Homo sapiens: one gene and its partners. The protein of the gene in region 3 interacts with the protein of the main gene of each other region in a pairwise test. Each region holds a gene or a part of one and is shown on either strand. Other genes may lie near its edges.

What was found.
Region 1: the proteins of ZBTB43 (region 3) and CCDC13 interact in binary tests that used the Homo sapiens proteins (3 or more experiments, as listed by UniProt).
Region 2: the proteins of ZBTB43 (region 3) and LNX1 interact in binary tests that used the Homo sapiens proteins (3 or more experiments, as listed by UniProt).
Region 4: the proteins of ZBTB43 (region 3) and ZNF250 interact in binary tests that used the Homo sapiens proteins (3 or more experiments, as listed by UniProt).

What each region holds. Positions count from the first base shown.
Region 1 is NC_000003.12:42,706,690-42,714,697, reverse strand, and holds part of CCDC13 (coiled-coil domain-containing protein 13), read left to right. Parts: intron 1-1,381; coding exon 1,382-1,536; intron 1,537-4,899; coding exon 4,900-5,014; intron 5,015-5,558; coding exon 5,559-5,718; 3' UTR 5,719-8,008. UniProt on the Homo sapiens protein: Required for primary cilia formation and promotes the localization of the ciliopathy protein BBS4 to both centriolar satellites and cilia.
Region 2 is NC_000004.12:53,458,400-53,463,093, forward strand, and holds the end of LNX1 (E3 ubiquitin-protein ligase LNX), read right to left. Parts: intron 3,195-4,694; coding exon 3,036-3,194; coding exon of another isoform or gene 3,032-3,035; exon of another isoform or gene 2,644-3,031; coding exon 2,508-2,643; 3' UTR 1,130-2,507; coding exon of another isoform or gene 903-1,129; 3' UTR 902-902; downstream 1-901. Other genes in the region: FIP1L1 (pre-mRNA 3'-end-processing factor FIP1), read left to right, coding at 254-391, 903-1,050.
Region 3 is NC_000009.12:126,836,040-126,838,710, forward strand, and holds the end of ZBTB43 (zinc finger and BTB domain-containing protein 43), read left to right. Parts: 3' UTR 1-2,171; downstream 2,172-2,671. UniProt on the Homo sapiens protein: May be involved in transcriptional regulation.
Region 4 is NC_000008.11:144,897,944-144,906,490, forward strand, and holds the start of ZNF250 (zinc finger protein 250), read right to left. Parts: upstream 3,511-8,547; 5' UTR 3,456-3,510; exon of another isoform or gene 3,394-3,455; intron 2,363-3,393; exon of another isoform or gene 2,197-2,362; intron 1-2,196. Other genes in the region: uncharacterized protein LOC124902042, read left to right, coding at 3,739-4,338. UniProt on the Homo sapiens protein: May be involved in transcriptional regulation.

The DNA of each region.
Region 1 (8,008 bases), on a different chromosome or scaffold from region 3:
CTTCCTCCAACACTGTCAGTTTCAAGGCTGCCCCTCTAATTTTCAGGTGTGCATGTAACTCTTGGCTTGGGTTAGATCTCAGGGAGTTCTGGCTTTCTCACTAAATGAACCTTTAGTATCATAGAAGTCTGAAATGGCACACCTAGCCACAGGAAGGACCTAAGCTCAAGCTCCAGTGGGATTAAACAAGTGCTTCATGTGAAATAACATTTATGACAGGCATGTAGAAAACAAAACAATAAGCTTAAGATAATCACTAACTCCAAGAAAAGCGAACAATTAAATGAGAAAGGACATATGACACTGTGCGTCATGGCTCTAACTAATTGTCCTAACGTAGACAGGCTTTTGGTGTCTATGCCCTTTGCTCCCTGCTGTTATGCCTGTGAGTGCTTTATGTTACATGAAAAAGAGATTTTGCAGATATGATTATTGTTATGGACCCTAAAATGGAAAGATTATCCTGGATTATCTGGTGGGCTCAATGTAATCTTTTGAGCCCTTAAAAGCAGAGAAATATCTCCGTCTGGGATTATTCAGAGAGTTGCTGTGGAGGAAGTCAGAGAGGGTAGTGAGATTCAAAGTGTGTTAAGGGTATCTAGCTGGCTTTAAAGATGGAGGGGGCAAGGTGGCTCCTAGAAGGTGAAATTGACCAGCAGCCTGCAGGGAACAGGGACCTCAGTCCTTCAACTACCTGGAACTGGATTCTGTCAACACTCTGAATGGGCCTGAAAGTGGATTTTCCCCCGGAACCTCCAGATAAGAGCCCAGGTCAGCCAACCCCTTGATTTCGGCTTGTGAAACCAGAAGCAGAGAAACCCACTGAGCTTGCCAGGCCTCTGACTTACAGAACTGTGAGATAATAGATTTGTGTTGTTTTAAGCTGCTAAATTTATGGTAATTTGTTATAGCTGTGATAGAAAACTGATACCTAATATCAATTCATCCAAAAACGTATACAGGTGATTCTGTTTCGTAGGAGGAGAGTACTAAAATAAAACTAAATTCTTATTTTGCATGACAGGAAGTCAAAAGATTATATTTAAACCTTATATAAACCTAAAAATAGCAACATAAGCATCTGTAGAAATATGGCAGTAAATATTAAAAGAAACAGCTAGAAGTGTTATAAGTGATTGCTTTTAGAGAGCAGGAATTGGGAATGATGGGGCTGGGAGTGGGCTGATAATTTTTAAATTTTAACCTTGGAGAGAACCATATGGTGTTTAAATGCATGTTCCTGTGTTACTGCAATGAAAATGAAGAGGTCCCATCACTACCAATGTAAGATGTGCCCATCTCTCTAAGGGCCTGAGCAAGTGGGGTAGGGCCTGCCCCTGCCTGCCAGGGCATGTAGCATCCCCTCCTCTCTAATCACCAGGGTGGAGGAGAGCAACAGCAAGCTCCTGGAGTCAGAGAGGAAGCTGCAGGAGGAGCGACACCGCACCGTGGTGCTGGAGCAACATCTGGAGAAGATACGCCTGGAGCCAGGGAAGGCATCAGCCTCCCAGAGAGCAGCTCCCAGGACCAAAACAGGTAGGGGCCAGGGCAGTAGTCTCAGTGCAGGGGGTGGAGGCAGTGTTGCTGCTAACAGAGGAGCCAGGCAGCTGCACTGTTCAGCCCATCAGTGAGCATGTGGGAAGCAGAGCTTCCATCAGGGTGGAGCTCTGCCTGCCTCCACTGTGGGGTGTTCTTTTCCCCAGGCCTCTCAGTCAGAAGCAGGAGCCCCAGAGCTCCATTGCCTCGTGTGGCCCTGGCCTGGCCACCTGTAAGCCCTCAGCATGAGGTGGCAGTGCTGAATGCCCCCAGCCACCCTAGCCCTCAACCCTCTATCCTAAGCTGACTTCATTCAAAGTGGTCATGGGGCACAGCTGGTCTGCTGGGGAAGCCCAAGCAACAGTGGCTGAAGCAGGGGAGGAGTCCCTTTGTGCCTCCTGCAATGGTCAAGTTGATATAAGCAGGAAGTAGCCTCACCAGAGGTTTGGGGACCCAAGCTCCCTCTGTTTTGTGGCTCCACTGTTCTCAACATGCAGCTTCCATCTTCTGGTCTACAATGACTGCCTGAGCTTTCCCATCAGCAGCAGGAAGGGGAGAAGGGAAGGAGACAAACTTCTCCTTACCTTTTACGGTTGCATATGTCACTTCTGCTCTCATCCCATCAGCCAGACAGTTGGGCATAGCCAGGTGCAGAGGGAAGCTGGGAAATGCTATCCTTAACTGAAAAGTCTATCGCTCGAACACAGTGGTTCTCAAGGTGCAGTATTCAGATGAGCAGCATCAGCATCCTGTGGGGCTGGGGCGAGCTGGAGGATGCCAGAGCCAGAAGCCATTTCTGGGATGGCTGACTCCCAGGGAGGAAGGGTCTCCAATGTGGAGGGGCTGGGCCTGCCTCTGTCTGACCTCCCATCCCACCCATCCCAGCCCCCTCCAGGCTGGAATGCTGGAGGTGCTGCTGCCCCCACTGCACCCTCTTTCAACACCCCAGTAGCCCCCCAACCCCTCCCCAGCCAAGGATGGTCAGACCCTTGGTCTCAGTCCTCAGCCCAGATGAGGTCAGAACGTTTCAGAAGGGTGTGCCAGAAGTAGGGCATAAAGAGGGTGTTGGGGCCACTTGCTTTCTCTTCTCCCACCAGCAGGGCCAGGAGCTTCTGAGAATCCAGGCCGGGAAGGAAGGGTCTCTGGGGCTTAGCCTTGCTGACCCTCTTGGACTCTCAGGAATATGTTCCCTAGGAGTGTGGCTTCTCCAGGCTGGGGCTTACCTCCTGTAGGGCAGCAGGACTTCCAACCAGGGAGAGCTAAGCCACAGCAGGCAAGTCACTTTGTTCCCTGCTGGACAGTGAGGGCAGCTGCCTGAGGGAAAGTGTCCAGGTGGCCTCTGCTGCCTACTGGCTTTTAACATGGGCAAAATCCTGCCCCTCTGGTGAGCAGAGCACCACTTACCCGCCTCCCCCTGGCCCATCCGTAAAATGAGGAGGCTAGATTTATAATTCAGTCCCCCATGGCAGTCTCACTCCAGTAGGGGAGCTAGACATCTGAGCAGAGATGGAGGAACTGGGAGGGGATGTGGCCTGCCGATCCCTGAGGGAAAGACAAGTGTCGGTGCTTGGAAGCTTAGCTGGATGCTTGGAGGAACAGGGAGGAGGCAGGGAGGCTGGAGTGGTCCAATCACACAGGGCCTTGAGAGCCAAATAGAATTCACTGAGGCTGCCAAAGCTCTAGAGGCATAAACTATTATCCTTTTTTTCAGCTAAGGAAACCAGCTCAGAGAGGCTGATAGTTTGCCTGAGGCCTCTCAGCAGAGGGCGAAAGCCAGGTCTTCTGATACCAAGTAATTTACTGTGGGTCACACCACCTCTGAGGGCCTTTTCAGTCCCGAGGTTTTCTGATGCTGTGATTTTGCCCAAGTTCGCCACCACCAGTTGAGCTTTGTCTTTTTTTTTTTTTTTTTTTTGGAGACAGAGTCTCACTCTGTCCCTCAGGCTGGAATGCAGCGGTGCGATCTCAGCTCACTGCAACCTCCACCTCCCTGGTTCAAGCAATTCCCCTGCCTCAGCCTCCCAAGTAGCTAGGATTACAGGGGTTCGCCACCACACCCTGCTAATTTATGTATTTTTAGTAATGATGGTGTTTTACCATGTTGGCCGGGCTGGTCTTGAACTCCTGACCTCAAATTATCCACCCCCCTAGACCTCCCAAAGTGCTGGGATTATAGGCATGAGCCACCGCACCCGGCTGAGGCTCTTTTTGATTCCCTGTGTCACAGGGCTTAGAAAATTCCATCAGGCTGAACAAGCAGTTTCCCATCCAGGGCAGCTCTAGTTGGGGATGTGGAGGTGCTCAATGCGTGGAATAAGCCAAGGGCAGCTTAGCAGTGTCCCCTGGAGCCAGGAAAGGCCCTGAAGAACACTCAGTCCAGCCCCTGTAGAGGGCAGAGCCACTCTGCTGCCTCCCCAGCAATGAGACAGGTTTACACAAGACTAGTCTTGAGGTGCATGCCTCCATGCCTGGCTAATTTTTATGTATTTTTAGTAGAGACAGGGTTTCACCGTGTTGGCCAGACTGGTCTTGAACTCCTGACCTCAAGCAATCTGCCCCCACTTGGCCTCCCAAAGTTCTGGGACCACCCCACCGTGGGCCACTTTGTCTCCTTTTTGTGAACATTCTGTACCCTTCAACTCCAGGACCCTGGATCCCCTGCTTCCTAGTATGAAGCTGATGGCCTGGATGGGGACCACTGGTATGAGGGCATCAGGTACAGTGACAGTCTAGACTCGGGCTCAGCCTGCAGGCCAGACCTCAGGCTCAGCTGGTTTCTCTTTTTGAAAACAAATTACCAGGCTGGGCATGGTGGTTTACGCCTGTAATCCTGGCACTTTGGGAGGCCTAGCCAACATGATAAAACCCTGTCTCTGCAAAAAATACAATAATTAGCTGGGCATGGTGACAGGCACCTGTTGTCCCAGCTACTCGGGAGGCACAAGAATCGCTTGAACCCTGGAGGCGCAGATTGCTGTGAGCTGAGATCACGCTACTGCACTCCAGTCTGGGTGACAGAGCAAGACTCTGTCTCAAAAAAAAAAAAAAGAAAAAAAAAAGAAAACAAATTACCAGAAACTTGTAAAGTATAAAGATGGAGACAGGGTGGTGAGGAACCACCCTGGTACAAAGCGAGCAGAGTCAGGGCTGTAGCAGAGGCCAAAGCCAGGGGCAGAGGCATGCAGAGGAGGCATCAGGGAGGGCTTCGGAGGGAGGCAGAGCTCAGAGTTGCCCTGCACCCCGAAGGCGGTGTAGCGTTTCACCATGTGGAAGAGCAGGCAGTGGGCAATGGCGGGAGGAGAAGCAGGGTGCTAGCACAGGGCTGTGGCCTCCTCACAGAAAGTGGTTGCTGCTGCCCCACAGGTCTGCCCACCTCTAACAACAGGCACAACCCAACCGGGAGCGAGAAGAAGGACCCATCCTTTGCCCAGCTCTCCGATGTGCCCGTGGAATCCCAAATGGAAGAGCTGACAACCAGGTGCTCCCCTGCCCCGCCTTCCTGAAAGGGTAGGGTTGTCTGAGCAGAGGTGCCTCCATGGGCAGAGGGACTGTGTCCCTCCCCTTGCACTTTTGACTCATTTGCCCAGAAGGCTTGTCCTGTTTGGTCCTGGGTTCTAGGCCTGCAATTCAGGGACTGGCCTTCAGAGGACAGAGGGCCCGGCCCAAACCCCAATGACCCATAGTCCAAGAGAAATTTTATCAAGCATGGATCACTGAACCAGTTTCTCACTACGTTAAACCTTTTAAGACCCCACGCAGCCATGGGAAGGGAAAGACGGGAACCTCTACAAATTGGAACTCAATTTGTAAGGGGCCTTGAGGTAGCTTACATTGCAGGGAGCCAGGCCCATAGAGAGGAATCCATGGTACCCACAAGAGTCAGTGAGAGGAGGGGATGGGTCAGAGGGAAGCCTGAGCCTGAAGAGCAGCCATGCTGGCAACCACATTCCCAGGGCCCTCTGTCACCCACGCACACCTGTGTGCAGCTCCAGCCACACTGAGCACTGTCTCCTGTGGTCCAGGCTGGCCATCCAGGTGGAGGAGAATGAAATGCTAAAGGCTGCCCTGGGCAGTGCCCTGCGGGGAAAGGAGGAGGACTTCCGGATGTACCATGAGATCCTGGGCCAGGTGAAAAGTGTCTTCCTGCAGGCCCTGCGGCAGCAGAAGACAGGCAAGCAATAGGATGACAGCCCAGTGTCGGCCTGGCCGGGTGGGCAGCCTCAGGTCTTGAGAGGATAAGACTCTGTCTGAGGACTCCATCTGCTCCGGGAAGCCAGCCCAGGGCAGCCAGCTCAACCACTTCTACCAGAAGAGGCTCCTTAAGGATGACCAAAACCAATGTCTCAGGCCAGGAAGGCAGAAGAGAAGCCCTGGTGGGACACTGCAGGAGACCCTGGGCTGGCTGGGTTACAGCAGCAGGGAGGCCCAGCAGCCCACTGGCAGAGGCGAGAGCTCTGGGATGGCAAGGCGGCTGTGAATGGACAGATGCAGTCCCTCGGGCAGGTGTTCATCGCCCTCATCCTAGGTACTAGCCCTGGATGTCCCCATGGCTTCACACACAGAAGAGCCCTTGGTTACCCTAAGTGGGCATATCCCCCATGCCACTCAGCCCTGCCCTATCCCCTCACCCCCATCCCGGCTCCATCTGTAGCCGTCCACACCCTACACAGACTTGGGGCACTATGCTCTCAACCAGTTTGTCAGCCCACTCCTCAGGACACTTCCTCAGGTGCAGACCCTTGGACTTGTAATAATAATAAGTATTTTCATAATCACTGCAGCTCCCAGTGAGTGAGCATCTACTGTGGCAACCTGACCCCATTCAGTCCTCTAATGACCCAGGGGTTTGTTGTCTTATTTGACAGATGAAGAAACTGAGGTTCACAGAAAGAAGCTGAGCTAATATTTAACTGCAGTCTGCCTGACCCCAAAACCAGGGTCTTGCCGTTCAGAGATTACCCAGGGTAGGCGCACCCACCCACCACTGAACAACCCCACCCCTAGGCAGCAGCTCCAAGAGGCATCTTTGTTTGCTCACCAAGACTGCTGATGGATGCTGGTGGCAGAGGGCCGAGGTGGGGCTCAGCTGGAGCTTCAGGCAGAAGGGTTTTGAGGTAGTGGCTCCAGTCAAAGGTACAGTGCACCTCCCTCGCCATGGTGAACTTGGAGGGATGCTGCAGGGGCACCCTAAGATCCGCAGGCCTCTATGACTGTCAGTGTTGCCCTTTCTCAGCTGTAACTATGCACTTATAGCTACAGGAAGGAGTGGCCCCAAGGAGGGTCACTCATAGCCACACACCCCAACTCCGACACCCTGGCCACACAGGTGCACCCACAGCCCCACACAAAGATGCAGATGCACACACATACCTCAATTCAGGAGCATGCAACTGTACGTGCACACAGGCACCTCCATGTGTGCACACTCATGGACACACAGGTGCAGATGAGCACACACATGTGGATGTGGACACACATTCCCACACGTGAAGACATAGCCACTTGTGTGTTGCTTGTGCAGTGATGCACAAATGCAGGTGCACATACTGTGAAAACACCCCCTTCCCCAGGAAAAGCCACTGGGGCTCCTGCGAGCATCTTGTCAGCTCCTTCCTTGGAAAAGCCACTGCGGCTCCTGGGACCCTGTCTTCTCAGCCCCTTCCTTGGGGATGGGGCTATGGAGGGACCCTAGCTGGCCCCCACTCCTCAGGGAGCCCCTGACCCTGCATGGGGTCACACGGATCTAGAGATCCCACAGCAAGTTAGAGCAAAGGCCACCGGGATGAACTGATGATTCTGGTGGGGTCCTAAGGGTCTCTGGGAAGGAAGAGTTTTTCTCTGGTTCCTTGTGAAGGAAAACGGCCAGGCAGAGAGCCAGGAGAGAGAGGGTCTGTGCTTGGAGGGGACAGTGTGTGACAGCGAGGGGTGGGCTGGATGTAGAGTCTGAACACAGAGGAGTCAGCACCTTCTCCTGCAGGCCCTGAGGAGCTCCAGAGGGTGATCTGAGTATGAGGGGTACAGGCTCTGGCCTCAGTGCAGTCCCAGGGAGTGAGAAGCAGGCATAGGATCAGCCATCCTTCCTCAAGATCACCTCAGGGAAGTGCAGAGATGGTGTGACCCACACTCCAGCCACTTCAGGGTGGTTCTGCTGCCCTTCCTGGGCTATGCCTGAGAAAGGAAGGAGCATTAGGTCATGGAGTCTGGACAGGTGGGGCTGCCTGGGGCATACTTCTCTCCCCACTTACCAGCTGTGTGGCCTTGGGCAAGTTATTTAACCTCTCTGATCCTCCACATTCTCATCTATAAAATGCAGACAATAATAGAATCCTCCCTCAGGGGGCTGTTATTAATATGTATGTCAAAGAATAACCCAAAGACGTTTCACTAATTATTAGCTCTCTGTTTATTTCTGTACAAGGAACATGTATCTATAGACTGATTTCAACAAGAGTTATATAAGAGAGAGGGGAAA
Region 2 (4,694 bases), on a different chromosome or scaffold from region 3:
TGAAAGCACAGAACAAAATTGGTCATTTAACATGTGTAATTATTATATATTTATATTCTTAGCTCTAGTGCTATTTTGAGAACAAGCATTATTTTCCTCTCAATTCAACGAATATTTCTTCCTCACTAATGTTATAAAAGATGCTAATGTGAGGATTTTGGATTTGGACTGCAGATCACATCTCTTTTACAGTTTGAATCCATTCAGAATTAATGGTCCAGTTGTCAAGAAAACATTTCTATTTCAATTTCAGCGATGAAGAACGATACAGATACAGGGAATATGCAGAAAGAGGTTATGAGCGTCACAGAGCAAGTCGAGAAAAAGAAGAACGACATAGAGAAAGACGACACAGGGAGAAAGAGGAAACCAGACATAAGTCTTCTCGAAGGTTTGCTCTTTAATAAAATAGTGAACCAATAGTATGTGAGAGATTTTGACTTACTACATTGTCGCATTGGAAGAGGGGAAATTTTGGCCTATGAACCAGTCTTGCTTGGTTTCATTAAAGAAAAATTCAGGGCCTTGTCTCAAATTTTTTTAAAAAAGCATTAAACAAAATACCTATTGTTTGCCAAAAATCAACCCTATACAGTATTTCCGGTTTTGAGTTAATGCCTGTTTCTAATTTGTTACTGTATATTATAATATGCATTTCAGAAGCTGTGTATAGGCACTGGGAATCTGAGATAATATCAGTGAAGATGGCCCTATAAAATAAATACAATCCCTGCATAAAAGTCACATAAAACTGATTATTCCTCACATTATATTTATGAGAAAATGCATTAGATTATTTTAAACCCAGTGTTATATTGAGAATTTCCTTAGAGTGATTGGATTTTTGTCACTGATTGTGTATTTAAACAGAACACACCTTTTTTTTTTTTTTTTTTTTCCAGTAATAGTAGACGTCGCCATGAAAGTGAAGAAGGAGATAGTCACAGGAGACACAAACACAAAAAATCTAAAAGAAGCAAAGAAGGAAAAGAAGCGGGCAGTGAGCCTGCCCCTGAACAGGAGAGCACCGAAGCTACACCTGCAGAATAGGCATGGTTTTGGCCTTTTGTGTATATTAGTACCAGAAGTAGATACTATAAATCTTGTTATTTTTCTGGATAATGTTTAAGAAATTTACCTTAAATCTTGTTCTGTTTGTTAGTATGAAAAGTTAACTTTTTTTCCAAAATAAAAGAGTGAATTTTTCATGTTAAGTTAAAAATCTTTGTCTTGTACTATTTCAAAAATAAAAAGACAGCAATGACTTTATATCCAAGAAAGGAATGTGAATGAGTCACTTAACAGGGAATCTAAAGAGCTGTGTTAGCTGTGTACATACACAGATTATCTGAGAAAAGGTCAAGGGTTCCACTTGGGCCACAGTTTTTTTGTTAATCAAACACCACTCTCTTAAGAGGCTGCATCACAAAAGGCAACAAAGGGCCCCTCTAAGGCTTGAGATTAAAACTAGTCTTTATCATTACTGCTGTGACACTCTTGCTTAGTATATTAAGAGACTCATACATTTTTGATATCACAACTTTTTGATGGCTTTTCAATATTCTAAATTTGGGTTCCTGGTGAAACCAAATGGGGTACACTTTCATATCCAAATTAATAAAACCTATAAGGCATCTGGGTGGCCTCTATGAAATAAATTAATTAATTACCCATAGTGTAGTTTCTAGGAGGCATGTGTACACACACTCTTCATTGTGGCACAAATTTAAATCGCCTCATGACCATGTCTGTGAGCCAGGGTCAAGCTGGTTTGGCCTTCTTGATGCATTTTCCAAGGCCCACTGGTGGAGCAGCATGAGTTTTTATACAGTTACTAACGATTGTGGAAAAAAAGAGCTTTAGCCATTTCTTACTAAAAACAAAACAAGTTTATAATTAATTCTCTGAGCGAGCATTTTTAGGGATAAGCCTAGGAGGTATTCATCGGTGATGGTAACAAATAACATGGTATTTGAAAGAATAAATTACTAGGATCTTTTAAATAGTGATAATACAAAAGTAATCTTAATTAGTATCACATACTAAAAGACAACTATAACTTCTGAAAAATATTTATTCTTGTTTGATGAAAGCAACGTTTCTCAGCAATGCATTTTAAAAAATATTTTAGCTGTAAATTAAAAATGGCCATAATGTACCCTTGGCAGACTTCAGCATATACCAAATTTTAAATTTAAATCAGCTTGAATTCAGTGGGGTATACAAATCATTTTAGTTGTTTTAGGGCTTTTTATTGAATAGAAAAAATATAAACAATGTTGTAGAGTAATGAGAAATCCTCCACACTGAAAAAAAACTAGTAGTTTTAATTTTTTTGGAATCATATTTTCTGAGGTGTAACTGGCTTTCATTAGATGATCATACTTTTCCTGACATTTTTACAATGTATTCTTTCTTTAAATATAAAAACTGACAAGATAAATATAGTGTTTCAACTTCTTAGCCTATTTGTGATTTTTCTGTTTTCCTCTGACCCATCATTGATTCTATAAAAAAGTGCCAGGCCAAGAAACAATAGTTAGAGTAATTCTTCCTTTAAGTTCTTTCAGCAGTCTTGCCAAGCAAGCATGTATCATTCCTGATGTACTTCTACCATTGACAGCAAGAAGAATATCACCACATCTAAAAAAAAAAACAAAACAAGATATGATTAGTATTTTAATTCGTTGCTGAAGTTAATGCAAGTTTATCTTAGTGGTGCTAGATTTTGCTACATCTGACCATTTTAATTATGTTAACTTCTAATTGAGATATTTCTTGCCTCTTATTTACATTCTCCAAACTCACTATCCATTCAGCTTGTGTTAGAAGGAATGCTAAAAGTATGGGGAGTTGTAGTATGGGACCAAGAATATGTGTAATTATTTTGGATTTCTCAGAAGTTGAATGCTACGTACATACTTTTAATCCCCACAAAGTATAATAAATACATGCCTTATCTCAAATGGGGCCAAGCTTTGGCATTTATGAAACAACATTTAATACAAGTATTTTTGATTAGTCATTATTATTACCTAATTCTTCCATCATTGTATGCTGGTGTTCCTTCAACAATGGATTTGATGAAAAAAGGTTTGTTTCCATTGTATTCTTCATAACCTCCTACAATGCAGAAGCCCAGACTTCCAGCTGTGTTTCTTCGTAATACAATATCTTTACAGTTATACAAGCACCTGAAATAGAATGTAATCAGTGTACATGCATATTTAAGTTTCACAGTTAAGGGAATACTTACTGTGACTCATCCTCCATTCCTTTTGTTGGCATTTTTAATGGCTAAGTACCACTGCATAGGTCCCACTCAAAATTGTATCATACCTTGGTGACCTTTGTGCTGTTAGCTGGCTTTTTGTAATTGAACCTGTTTTCCATAATTTTGAATATCCTTAAAAAACTGACAGCCCTATTGTGTTCTGTTACACATCTACTGGGAATGATAATCATATTTTTAACTTAAGACAATGCTTGAATATGTATTAGCAAAAAGTTGGATAAACCTAAATCCTTATTGGTGAACAAACACACTTATGGATGTCATATTTTTATTTACTTGATATAATTTTAATGAGGGCAAAAATCCTTTGAATAATCTCAATGAAAGCAGTTTAAGCCTAATCCTAATAAATGAATTCGTATACTTTTTTTGACCTTGGAAAAATACCACTTTACACCCAGTGCTACGTTTGATAAGTCATAGAGAAGCATGCACGCATAAAGTGAATGGAAACAGAAACGTTTAAAGATTATAAGAACAATTCAAATAGGAGGAAAAACAAACTGCAGGAAACTGGATAGGAAGTTATAAAAGGAATGGGAGAAGGAAAGGCCCAGCTCTTCTGTAAATTAGAATCCTCAACTAAAATAGCAAATGAGATTGAAGAAATTTTTATTCAGTGGCCCCCAATGGATCAGTGTTCATATAGGTACAGGCCAAGTGTTAACTATGTTATAATTGCCATAGAAGTGTGTGTCAGGAGCTGAATTTTACTCCAGGATGACGTTGTTGACCACATTTGTAGCTGTAGTCCGGGAATTGGTTTGAAAGGAAATTGGCATTTTCATGTTGCCAAAAATCAGATATGGCTATTTTGTTTATATACCGTACCTTAAAATATTAACTGCTTTTTAGAAACCAATAAAAAGTCTTGTGAAATGTTAAATGATAAAGTTGATCATTACATTTGTTACCAACCTTGTTAGTCAATGTGACGTGACTTTTTTCATGATGATGTTTTCACTTGAAATAAAATGAGCTTTAGGGTTTGGCAAATACCTTTAAAATGTAATGCTGAAATTCAACTCTAACCAGTTCTGAATCTATCGTCATACATACACATCATCTATAACAATTTCTTTTACTGAAATGATTGCTTAAAAGTATGAATTTCATTAAATTTCCTATTGTAAAATATTTATCTGCTGCATTTCACAGTAAACCTTGATGTCAGTGGTAAATTCATTCTTTGGGAGCTGTGGTGTGTCACATAACACACTTTACATAACGGTTCACTGACTCCTCATGTACAAAGCAGGTAACTGGCTATTCTGTAAATACCAAAGCATTACATTCCCACCTGGGAGGATGTGTGCCCAATTTTTTGGAGAAAGGTAAGAATTAGATGATTGTTATCTAAGGTCATGATCAAATATCAGTTTTAATTGCCCAGTTTGAT
Region 3 (2,671 bases):
ATTAGCAGAGCATTTTCTGCCTGTTTGGAAGGTTTGATGTCCTGTTTCTCATTGAAGACTATTTACATGATCATTAGGACATTGCAGGAGAAGTCTGAGAGGTAAAAATACAGATATTCTGGGAGAGTCGTGGTCCTTCAGTTCTGCTGAAATCAGCATAGTGCCCTTGTCATGAGGAAGAGTTTCTGTTCAGCCAAGAGTGGTGGCACGCTTGGGTGGTAGTTTTGGAAGCAGTCAGTTGTGCTAGGACTTATTTAATATGTTGTGAAGAGAAGAGTGTCTTCTTGAAAGCCTTATGTGTCCATCAGCTACTAAATGTAGAACTTAAATAAGTTGCTCACATCTGTTCTTTTAGTGTTTTGTGGTATTTGAGGTTTTGGCAAAAATTGGGATTTTTTTATCAGGCAGCCAGAGCCTGGGAGGTGGTAGGGTGTCTGAAATGCTGGCCATGTTCAGAGAGGCAGGAGAAGGGGGTTGCTTTCATTTGAATATTAAAAGTGAATTTTTGTAAACTCTGGTTTTTACCTTTTTTTCATCCCCACGTTGAGTTGGAGGAATAGTCTCTTCTCTTCACCTCAATATAGCTTTAGAAAATCTTTATCCTTCCTAATAAGTTTGGATGGTTGTGGGTAACATTGTTCAAACAATCTTTCAGGGATCACGTCAATGGCCTACAACCAAGCTATTTGTCCCCTACTTTGAGTCTTAACTGTGGTTTTTCTTCAATCCCCATGGGAAAGGGCTTCAAGGCACCACCAGTGGTATTTAATATTCATACTTGGGGCCAGGCATGGTGGCTCACGCCTGTAATCCCAGCACTTTGGGAGGCCGAGATGGGTGGATCACCTGAGGTCAGGAGTTTGTGACCAGCCTGACCAACATAGTGAAACCCCATCTCTACTAAAAATACAAAAATTAGCCAGGCGTGGTGGCGCACACCTGTAATCCCAGCTACTCGGGAGGCGGAGGCAGGAGAATCACTTGAACCTGGGAGGCGGAGGTTGCAGTGAGCCGCGATTGCACCACCACACTCCAGCCTGCGCGACAGATCGAGACTCTGTCTCAAAAAAAAAAAAAAAATTCATACTTATGCCATGCTTTTACCTTTAGATACACACGTTACAGTAATCCACGTGGTGAAGTGCATGTCACCGTTAACTAAGGAAGGACTGCGGTAACTTACCCTGCAGGGCTGTAGGTTGCCTGCAGGCGCTCCAGGCCCCCAGCCTGTTGATTCCGATTTCTAGGTCTCATCTTCCTCTGGTCCCTTTTGGCCACTACTTTAAAAGCTTGCCCAAAGGGATCCCCTCCATTCTAGTGGGCATTTGCTGAACTAACCTGCCCCTAAGGCTGGCTTCTAACCACCGGGGAAAGCTGCTTAGCCTCCAGGGCTCCCTCCTTGAGAGGCTCACACACCCCCAAGCTGCTGTGGAGTGAATTTGAGACGGAGCAGAAGCTGCAAAGCTGTGCTTTCCCTGGGGAAGGGGATGTGCTGCGGCCTCCTGGGTGGGCGTGGAGAGGGCGCCATCACAACGAGTCCAGGTTTTTGCTTTTGGAAGGTCTCTGATAATTTAGGGGTGCTGGAAACCAGCACTGTGTTATCCCCAATCCCTCCTGTGCCACCAGTTTTGTGATTTAGGTTGCTTTAGTGGGTGACTAACTTTTGTTCAGTGAAACCAGGGTTTGTTTGGGGTTTTTTTCTTTGCTACTTACATATTTAAAGGTACAAGTTTCTTATTTCAAATCTCTACTGATAGTGCCCTATGGGGAGATGCTGGAACACATTTTGCAAATGTGACTTTTTTTTTTTTTTTTAATTTTTGCTTGAAGCCTGTGTCATGTTAGTTGCTGCTGCCTTCTTTCCTTTTGTGAGGTTCCCAATGTTTCGTCCAGAAAAGTACTTTATTTATGCAAGTCAGGTGACTCTTAGGCCACAAAACCATTTGATGATAAACAGATTATCATTAGGTGCATATCTTATTGATATTTTGTGAAATGTTATGCCTATGTTGCAAAAGTTGAATAGTTTTGTCTTTATATATTGCTGTCTTCAGTGTACAGCATGGTTTTACTTAATTGAATGTTAATGTTTAATATTTTCTTCTTATAGAAGAGATCATGCCCTTTTGTATGACATGTTTTAATAAATGTTATCTGTCAACTTTGTAAAAGTTTTGTTTTTCACTATGAGTAGATGACCACATCTTGTTTGACTCTGGGTTTTGCCACCTGAGAATACAGTTATATGGTGGCGTTTTGGTAAGTAAATGCCAAATAATCTGATCCAATGGGCAGTGAGTGACTGCCAGGCAGGCATTTATAGTAATATTTTAGACCCCCACTGGCCCCTTCGGGTACTTGGGGTGTGCTAGAGGCTCTCTGTGCCCCCTGGGCCCCCTTCCTGCTATGCACTTCTCTCCAGGAAGCTGGCCACGGTGGACCTGTCCTGGCTTCCGGTCAGGATCCAGAGACACTCTGGGTGGAGCCTGGCAGAACAGAGAACAGAGAAGTCAGGGAATTCATTCCCCTGGCTCCTTCCCGCCAGCTGTGGGTTGGCGGTGGCTGGGCTCCTCTGCCAAGGCCCACAGGTCCTGTCAGGCAACTTCTGGGGTTTAGTAGCCACACCTTCCCCTTGTCCCCTCAAGCCAGTCTCAGTCCTGACTCCCTGCTT
Region 4 (8,547 bases), on a different chromosome or scaffold from region 3:
TTCCGGTAAACCCACAACCACAACCTTCCAGCGTGGGCATTATGGCCATCATGAACATTTCACGGTGCTACAGAGATTTTGTTTATGGCCGGTTTTGGGGCCAGTTTATAGCCAGATTTTGGGGGGGCCTGATCCCAACAGTCAGGAGTTCAAGACCAGCCTGGGTGACATGGTGAAACCCCGTCTCTTCTAAAAATACAAAAATTAGCTGGGTGTGGTGGCACGTGCCTGTAATTCCAGCTCCTCCCAAGGCTGAGGCATGAGAATTGCTTGAACCTGGGAGGTGGAGTTTGCAGTGAGCCAAGATCGCGCCATTGCACTCCAGCCTGGGCAACAGAGTGAGACTCCATCTCAAAAGAAAAAAAGCAAATAAACAAACAAACAAAACAAAACAAAACAAAACAAAACAAAAAAACAACCAAACTGATAGCTTTCTTATATACCAGTAACACCTAATCAGAAAATATGAATGGAAAAAAATCTATTCAACAAATAGCAACAAGAAACAAGATTAAACCTTAGAAATGCAGAGTCCCTATAAAGAAAACTGTAAAACATCAAGGAAACACTTGAGGACACTCATGTGGGAAAACATTTTTTGGGTAAGACCTCAAAAGCACAGGAACAAAAGCAAACTAGACAAATGGAATTACATCAACTAAAAAGCTTCTGTACAGGAAAGGAAACAATCAGCAGAGTGAAGAAACAACATACAGAATGGAAGAAAATATTTACAAGCTATCCATCCGATAAGGGATTAATAACCAGAATGCAGAAGGGAGTCAAACAATTCAATAGAAAGAGACAACTAATCCGATTTAAAAACAGGTAAATGATCTGAGTAATTTATCAAAAAAAGACAATATGTATGGCCAACAAGCATATGAAAAAAACTAAAAATAGATCCACCATATGACCCAGCAATTCCACTGCTTGTTATATACCCAAAAGAAAGGAAGTCAGTATATCAAAAAGATATCTGAACATACATGTTGACTGCAGCACTATTCACAATAGCTAAGATATGGAATCAACCGAAATGTACATCAAATAAATGGATACAGAAAATGTGGTATATGTACACAATGGAATATGATTCAACTATAAAAATAAGGAAATTATGTCATTTGCAGCAACAGGGATGGAACTGGAGGTCATTATGTTAATTGAAATAAGCCAGGTACAGAAAGACAAATATTGCATGTTTTCACTCGTATGTGTGAGTTAAAAAAGTTGGTCCCATGGAGGTAGAGGGTAGAATGATGATTACCAGAGGATGGGAAGGGTGGGGTTGGGGGGAGGTATGAGATGAATAGAAGTGGGTTAATGACTACAAACATACAGTCAGATATAATGAATAAGTTCCAGTGTTTGATACCACGGTAAGATGACTACAGTTAATAATTTATTGTATATTTCAAAACAACCAGAAGAAGAGATGTGAAATGTTTCCAACACAAAAAATGATGTTTGAGGTGACAGACATCCTAATTACCCTGATTTGATCATTATACATTGTATGCTATCCTTGTATCAAAATATCACATGTATCCCATAAATGTGTATAATTATTATATTCAATAAAAAAGAACTTTAATAAAAATACAGGTATATTTTTATTATTTCATGTGGGAAGGGCTGTTCTAAGCAAAATACCAAAAGCAAAAAGCAGAGCTCCACAGATCTGCAGCTTATAAATCAAAATCATATGCACATCAAAGCTACCAAACTCCAAAAATGGACCTAAAGGCATGCAACAATTTAGTATATGACAAAAGCGGTTTTTCAAATCAATGGGAAGATCAATGGTGTTAGAAATGGCTATGATTTAGAGGAAAAAAGGAATTCCAAAAGCTGTATTCCAAACTCACCCCACAATAAAATAAATTCCAGACGTATCCAACATTTTACAAGTACCACAGAAAAACAAGAGTTTATTTTAAAAATAATCTTGGAGTGGGGAAAGCCCTTTAAAACACAGCACAAAGCCCAAAATGCCTTAAGGCAAAATATTTGACTCCTAAAAATTTTAAATTTTCTATTTTGAAAAAGCCCAAACCAGAATCAAACACCATAATCAGAGTCAAAAGACAAATTGAGAAGCATGTTTTCAACATACATGGAAAAAAATATGAGCTGGCAAATCACAAAGAAATACAAATGGCGAAAACACAAATGAAGGGATTTCAATCTCACCAATAAACGCAAAACGTCGACCTGGCAGGAATGCAGTGACCTGTCAAAGCCCACAGGACCAGAGTCCCGTCCAGGGCGGGAATGTCAATGGCAATCTCCCACCCTTACCCACTTCGTAGAGACCACCGGACAGAGAAACCTATGTCCAGAAGACAAGTTACGAACTGAAAAATCTGCGAGTACCCACCCGGCGGAGGACGAGTGGAGCGCCCCCTGCCGCCCCTGGTGTTAGTCAAACGACACCAGCTTCCCTTTGATGACAGAAAAAAGGGTGTGCGTGCGTGCCTAAAGCTCTAACGGCATTCAAAAATTCTGAAACTGTTCACAGCTCCTGCCTCTTCATACACTGGCAGAGTGTCGGGGGGGATGACTTTTATATATTTCTGACATGCCTGCATTAGAAGAAGTATTGCATATTATTTTCAATTTTAAAATTAAGCCAATAAACAACAAGGAAAATATTTGCTGTGTTGCAAAGAGTTGGGCTCATTCATTAAAATAGGGCTCTAACACAGTAACAGAAAAGACAGCATCGACAGCAAAATGGGGAGAGGATAAGACACCCGGCAAGTAGCACACTCGACCAACTGCTGAAACGAAAGCAGCTCGTTTTCGTCTTGACGCGGGAAGACTTTTTATAGCTAAGTAAAGTGGCGCTCCCGGTGCGCCGCCGGGGTCTTCATGGGGCTCCTCAGGATGTGCATCAAACAGAAAAAACCTCCATTTTTATATTTTGGGGAAGCTCCCCACCCCTTTCCGGGCCCATCCCAGGGGACGCGAGACCCCGAGGAGCGCGGCAAGAAGAGCGGCCCGGGGGTCCGGACTGCGCCCCTAGGACTCCGGCCATCCTGGCCCTAGGCACGGCGCCCGGTAGAAAGCGCGCGGGAGGGCACGAGGGGGAGGAAGGCCGGAGATCTGAGGAGATCCAAGGTGGGAGGGACGCCGGTCTGACGGGGCCCAAGGGGGTAGGGGCGGGGAAGGGACCGAGGCCGTCCGAGGCGGACGGGGGTGCGGGAGGGCCTGAGGGGGTCCAAGGCCGGGCGAGGGGAAGGGTGGGAACCCCGAACGGGGGAGAGGGCGCGGCCTTGGCCCTGGGGAGGAGGCCGCCGCGCGTCCGTGAGGGGAGGGGACCAGCGTAAACGCAGGAGGCAGTGCGTGCTCGCGGGGAAGAGTCCACGATTCGTGTGGAGGACGCACCGGCTCCGGTGTCCGTGATGGGAGAGGGTCCTGGCCGGCGACGACACGCGCCCCCCACTCACCGTCAGAGCCGCAGCCTCACGCGCGAAGGAACGGCATCCCGCAGCACCTTCAGACAAAGGGCTGCCCCGCCCCGTCTGCGCAGCCGCCAATCCCTGGGGGCTCCTGCCCCTCAGTTCCCGCCCCCACAGCCGAGTTCGCCAATCCTGGAGGGCAAGCATGTTTACGTCATTTGGCCCGCCTGCCCGCCCGAAGCCTTTCTCGGTGACCGACTGCAGGGAGCTCTCAGGAGCCACCGAGAGCCAGACCTCCGCGATCCCTAGAGGGGCCGAACACCTCTGGGCAATGGGCCCGGCCGGCTCCCCGGCCGCACTTCCGGGCGCGGAGGTTACAGCCCATCGCCGAGCCTTACCCGCTCGCAGTCCCGGTTCCCGAGCTCCTGCCGCCGTCGCCCTGTGGAGGACACCCCTGCCGGCCCCGCAGTCCCTCCTCGACTTGCGCTGGCTTCGGCCGTCCTGGAACTCGAGCTCGTTCCCCCCTCCGAGCCTTTTGCCCTTGCGGTTCCCGCTGCTGGGAACGACCTTGCCCTCAGCCGCCTGGCTGGTCCCTGCGCCGCTGCAGTGCGAATGTCGCCTTCTCAGGGGCCCTTTCTCTTCCTTCGTTGCAACACTGAAGTCCTCTTGTTTGATGACTTGCGTGAGGTTATTCCTCCCACTTAGGAGGCTGAGTGCTGCGAGGTCCGAGGCGCAGCCGCTCTTCGCTGTGTCCGGCCCGGCGTGCTCCCGACAGGGGGCGTCACTGAACAGCGACCGTCTCCGTCGCCCACTCGGCCCTGGTGTTTGCTTTTTGGTGTGTTTACACCGCGCACCTGGGGGAGAGGGGCGGGCCTTCACGAGGGCGCGGGCCACACCCGTGTGGAGGCTTCGGGCACAGCCCAGGACCTGACAGCCGCGGCAGGGAGGGTGGGGCTGGTTTGGAGCGGTGTCAGGGGACGGGAAGGCTGACGCCTAGTCCACCTTCTGCTGGCCCCACTCCCGAAGGTCAGGTCCGCGTCGTCCATTGGGCGCGTGGGCGGGCCCAGACTCTCAAGAGGCTTCCCCACAGGGCGGGGCTGGGGGCTGCGTGGGGGCGGCGGGGAAGGCTTAAGGTTAGGGGGTAGGCTTGAAGCGAGTGCCCGGCCCGTGCTGTTGGGAGCGGAGGCCGGGAGGATGTGGCGATAATTCCGTACTTGCCGCGCACCAGGCAGACGCGAAGTCTGTGCTACGCTTCAGCGAACTTAGCAGCCCTTGCGGGCAGGGGTTCGCACTTCACGGAGCTACCATCCACCACGCGCGTTTCGAGCAATGGGCCCGTTGCCTGGCGCACTAGAAGCCAAAACGGTGGCACCAGTTTTTGAGAAAAGAGAAGGCTTTATTATTTCAAGGTCGACGGCCAAGGAGACCGGAGGCATGGCTCAAATGTGGCTCCCACATGTGGGCTTAGGTCAAAGTCGACGGGTTAGGGAGGACAGGTTGGCACACAGAAGTGCTGGCGGGCAGGTTTCAATAGGAGGGCTTTAAACTTGGCCATTTATGGTAAGGTGTGGAATGGCAGGTTTCAGCACCAGATCTTCCAGGATAATGGACCCTTCCCTTCTGAAAGCGTTCCGCCCCTCAAGCTCCGGTCATGTCCCTGTCTTCTTGGCTCCACAGGGAGGAAACGTTGGTTCCGAGTTATGATTTTCCTCCTTTGTGCATGTCCGGGTTACATGACTTTCAGTTTTGGCTCTGCTATACCTCCTGTTACCAACAGAATAGGGTCAGTTTGGGCCAGTCTTGTGGTTACACCTCAGTGTCACAGGATTTCCTCTGCCAAAGGGCTGTGAAGCTCAGGACCAAGGTAATCAAAATTCAGCTCTACTATTGGATTGTCCTGGATTGTTTTAGCAGTTGACAGGGATCAAGCTCTGTCCCAGCAACCTTGATCCCAACAGAGAACTGATGCTCCTAGGACCTTCACCTCAGACCTCAGTGCATCCTGGTTTTTGTTTTTCTTCCTCCTCCACAACTTTTTTATTTTGCAAATGTTGATACATTCATAAAGGTTGAAAGAATAATACAATGAATACCTCCGTGCCCTTCACTTAGATTTAGCAGCTGACATCCTCTCTAGCACGTCCCTTCTGTGTCTCTGTCACTCTTTTTCCTTCAACAGCACAATGTTTATTGAGTGCTTGTGTGCTAAGCACTAAGTGTCGGGGCTACATCAGTGAACAAGCAAGTGCCTAACAAATCCATGTCTTTCTGGACCATACATGTGAATGGAGACAGTAGGCAATACGCAGAATAAATGTAGGAATTACAGAGTGTGTCCAGAGATGGTGAGGACTACAGAAGGTCTGGGCAGGTGCCATTGTGTCTGCTGGTTCACCTGGGCGACATGAGGCAGCAGCTGCCCCCTCTTCCTCTGGCTCCTTCAGCTCCAAGACTAAAGGCTCCAGCTTCTCCTATAGGGCAACAAAGGGGTTTCAGCGCATCCTGGGCTCCAGCTTGAGGTCACAGACCTCAACTTGTCTCTCCTCACTTTACATCCATCTTCCCTTCCCAACTGTCTGCCCTGTTCCAGCATCAGATGCAAAGACAACAGCCTTACAGGAACTGTTAACTATGTGCCACAATGGTGTAAGGCACAGTCCCTGCAACAAATCGTATATGATATATATAATATATATACACACAATTTACGTATCGTTCATGAGTATACAGTTTACTTTTTTTATTTTTTATCCTTTTTTTGAGACCGAGTTTCGTTGTCGCCCAGGCTGGAGTGCAATGGCATGATCTTGGCTCACCGCAACCTCTGCCTCCTGGGTTCAAGCCATTCTCCTACCTCAGCCTCCTGAGTAGCTGGGATTACAGGCGCCTGCCATCATGCCCAGCTAATTTTTGTATTTTTAGTAGAGATGGGGTTTCGCCATGTTTTGACACCAGTTGTTTTGGAAAAACTCAAACTGTTTTTTTTTCTGCTCTCACACTGCCACAAGTGGGATTCAAACCCACACCTACCTTAGGAGACCAGAAAATTGTTTCAGAAAAACTCTCAAACCCTATTTTTCCTCTGCTCTCATACTAACAACACAGAAGACTTATGTAGCCCCAAAATATATGGGGATTTCTCCTCATCAGCAAGCCATCAATTCTACTGGGTGTCCTCCAGTTCAGCTCCTTCACTGTCTACCTGGAGATAGTGCCGGATCCCACAGGATGAGGGCTCAGTTCCCGACTCCCCAATCCCCGACAGGAGTCACAGCCTGGGCCTCCAGAACTGATTGACTTCCTTCAAGTCAGTTCACGACTCCCCAGTCCCCGACGTGAGTCATAGCCCGGGCCTCCAGAACTGATTGACTTCCTTCAAGTTGGGGTTTCCATGACTCCCTCTTTGGGTTTGATTTGCTAGAACAGCTCACGGAACTCAGGGAAACCCTTACTTATGTTTGCCAGTTTATAATGAAGGATATTACAGAGGATACAAATAAAGAGATGTGTAGGGCAAGGCATGGGGAGAGGGGTGCAGAGCCTCTGTGCCCTTGCAGGGCACACAGCCCTCCAGGAACTTCCATGTGTTCGGCTCTCCAGAAGCTCTACAAACCCAGTCCTCTTGGGTTTTCATGGAAGCTTCATGACATCGATATTTTTTCCACCAGGCTATGAGGTGGGACCCTCTCTGGAATGATGGTCTTATGACCCACAATCAGAGAGGTAGGGGAAGATTAGGGTCCTGCGGGCAGGAGGTCAGAGAGATTTTGTTCTCTGAAGCCTAATGCATCCAATGTTATAACAAACGAGTGTAACAAGGGCTATGGCAGTTATGAGCCAGAAACCATACAAACGTGTGTGTGTGTGTGTGTGTGTGTGTGTGTGTGTGTATGGAAAGAGAGAGAGAGACCAGAAGTGCTATGCTGGAAACTATTCTTTTGAGGTTGTGTTCACATTTTTTTTAACCAATTTAACATATTATGTTACTATCTCACTTAAGATTGGCATTGACTGTACAACAGAAAGCTGATTACAGTGGCTGAACCAAATAGGTGGTTTTTTTTATGAGTCAATTTTTCTAGGAATACGGAGCCCATCCAAGGCCACACAATGCCACCAGGCCTCTAGGCTCCCCCTTTATTTTCCATTGGCCATCTTAATAAGCAGCTTTCATTTTTTTTTTTTTTTTTTGCCTCATGATTGCAAGAAGACTGCTTCATCACTAGAATCACATCCAGATTCCAGGCAGAAAGAGAAAAAACAAAAGACAAAATCAAATGTATGCTCAGCCAACCCCATGTCTTTCAGAACTGCACCCTGTGACTTTTACTTATGTATTTTTGGTCTAAAGTGTGTTACAAGACCAATTCTAGCTCCAAGGGTGATTAGGAAAATGTGTTTTTTCAGCTGGGTAAAGTGCCATGTTTAACATTAAAAATTGCCAAAAATCAGGCTGGGCACGGTGGCTCATGCCTGTAATCCCAGCACTTTGGGAGGCTGAGGTGGGCGGATCACGAGGTCAGGAGATCGAGACCATCCTGGCTAACACGGTGAAACCCAATCTCTACTAAAAAAAAAATACAAAAAATTAGCCAGGCGTGGTGGCAGGCACCTGTAGTCCCAGCTACTTGGGAGGCTGAGGCAGGAGAACGGTGTGAACCCAGGAGGCGGATCTTGCAGTGAGCCAAGATCGCGCCACTGCACTGCAGCCTGGGTGACAGAGCGAGACTCCGTCTCAAAAAAAAAAAATTGCCAAAAATCCCTGATGGTGTTTTTGTGATGCAATGTGAGAACTTACAGGTAATCAATTTGACACCAGATAAGTGATAAAGAGTAAACTTAAAAATCAATTTAAAATTCATATCCTCAGATCTGATTTCATTAACTATCATTCAGTTTATCCTCAACCTAATTAATATGTACAACTGAGGATATTTAGAAATACTCTGTTCAGAGAAGAGAAATAAACATTTCTTATGGGGAAATATACTATAAGGCTGATAATAAATTGATTTTTAAAAATATATTTGACTGCTATGTCCTTACTGCTGTATTTTTGTTGCTTTATTGAGGTATAAATTGCACAGACAATAAATTGAACATACTTTTAGTTTGATGAAAATGTTGACCTAAGTAGATG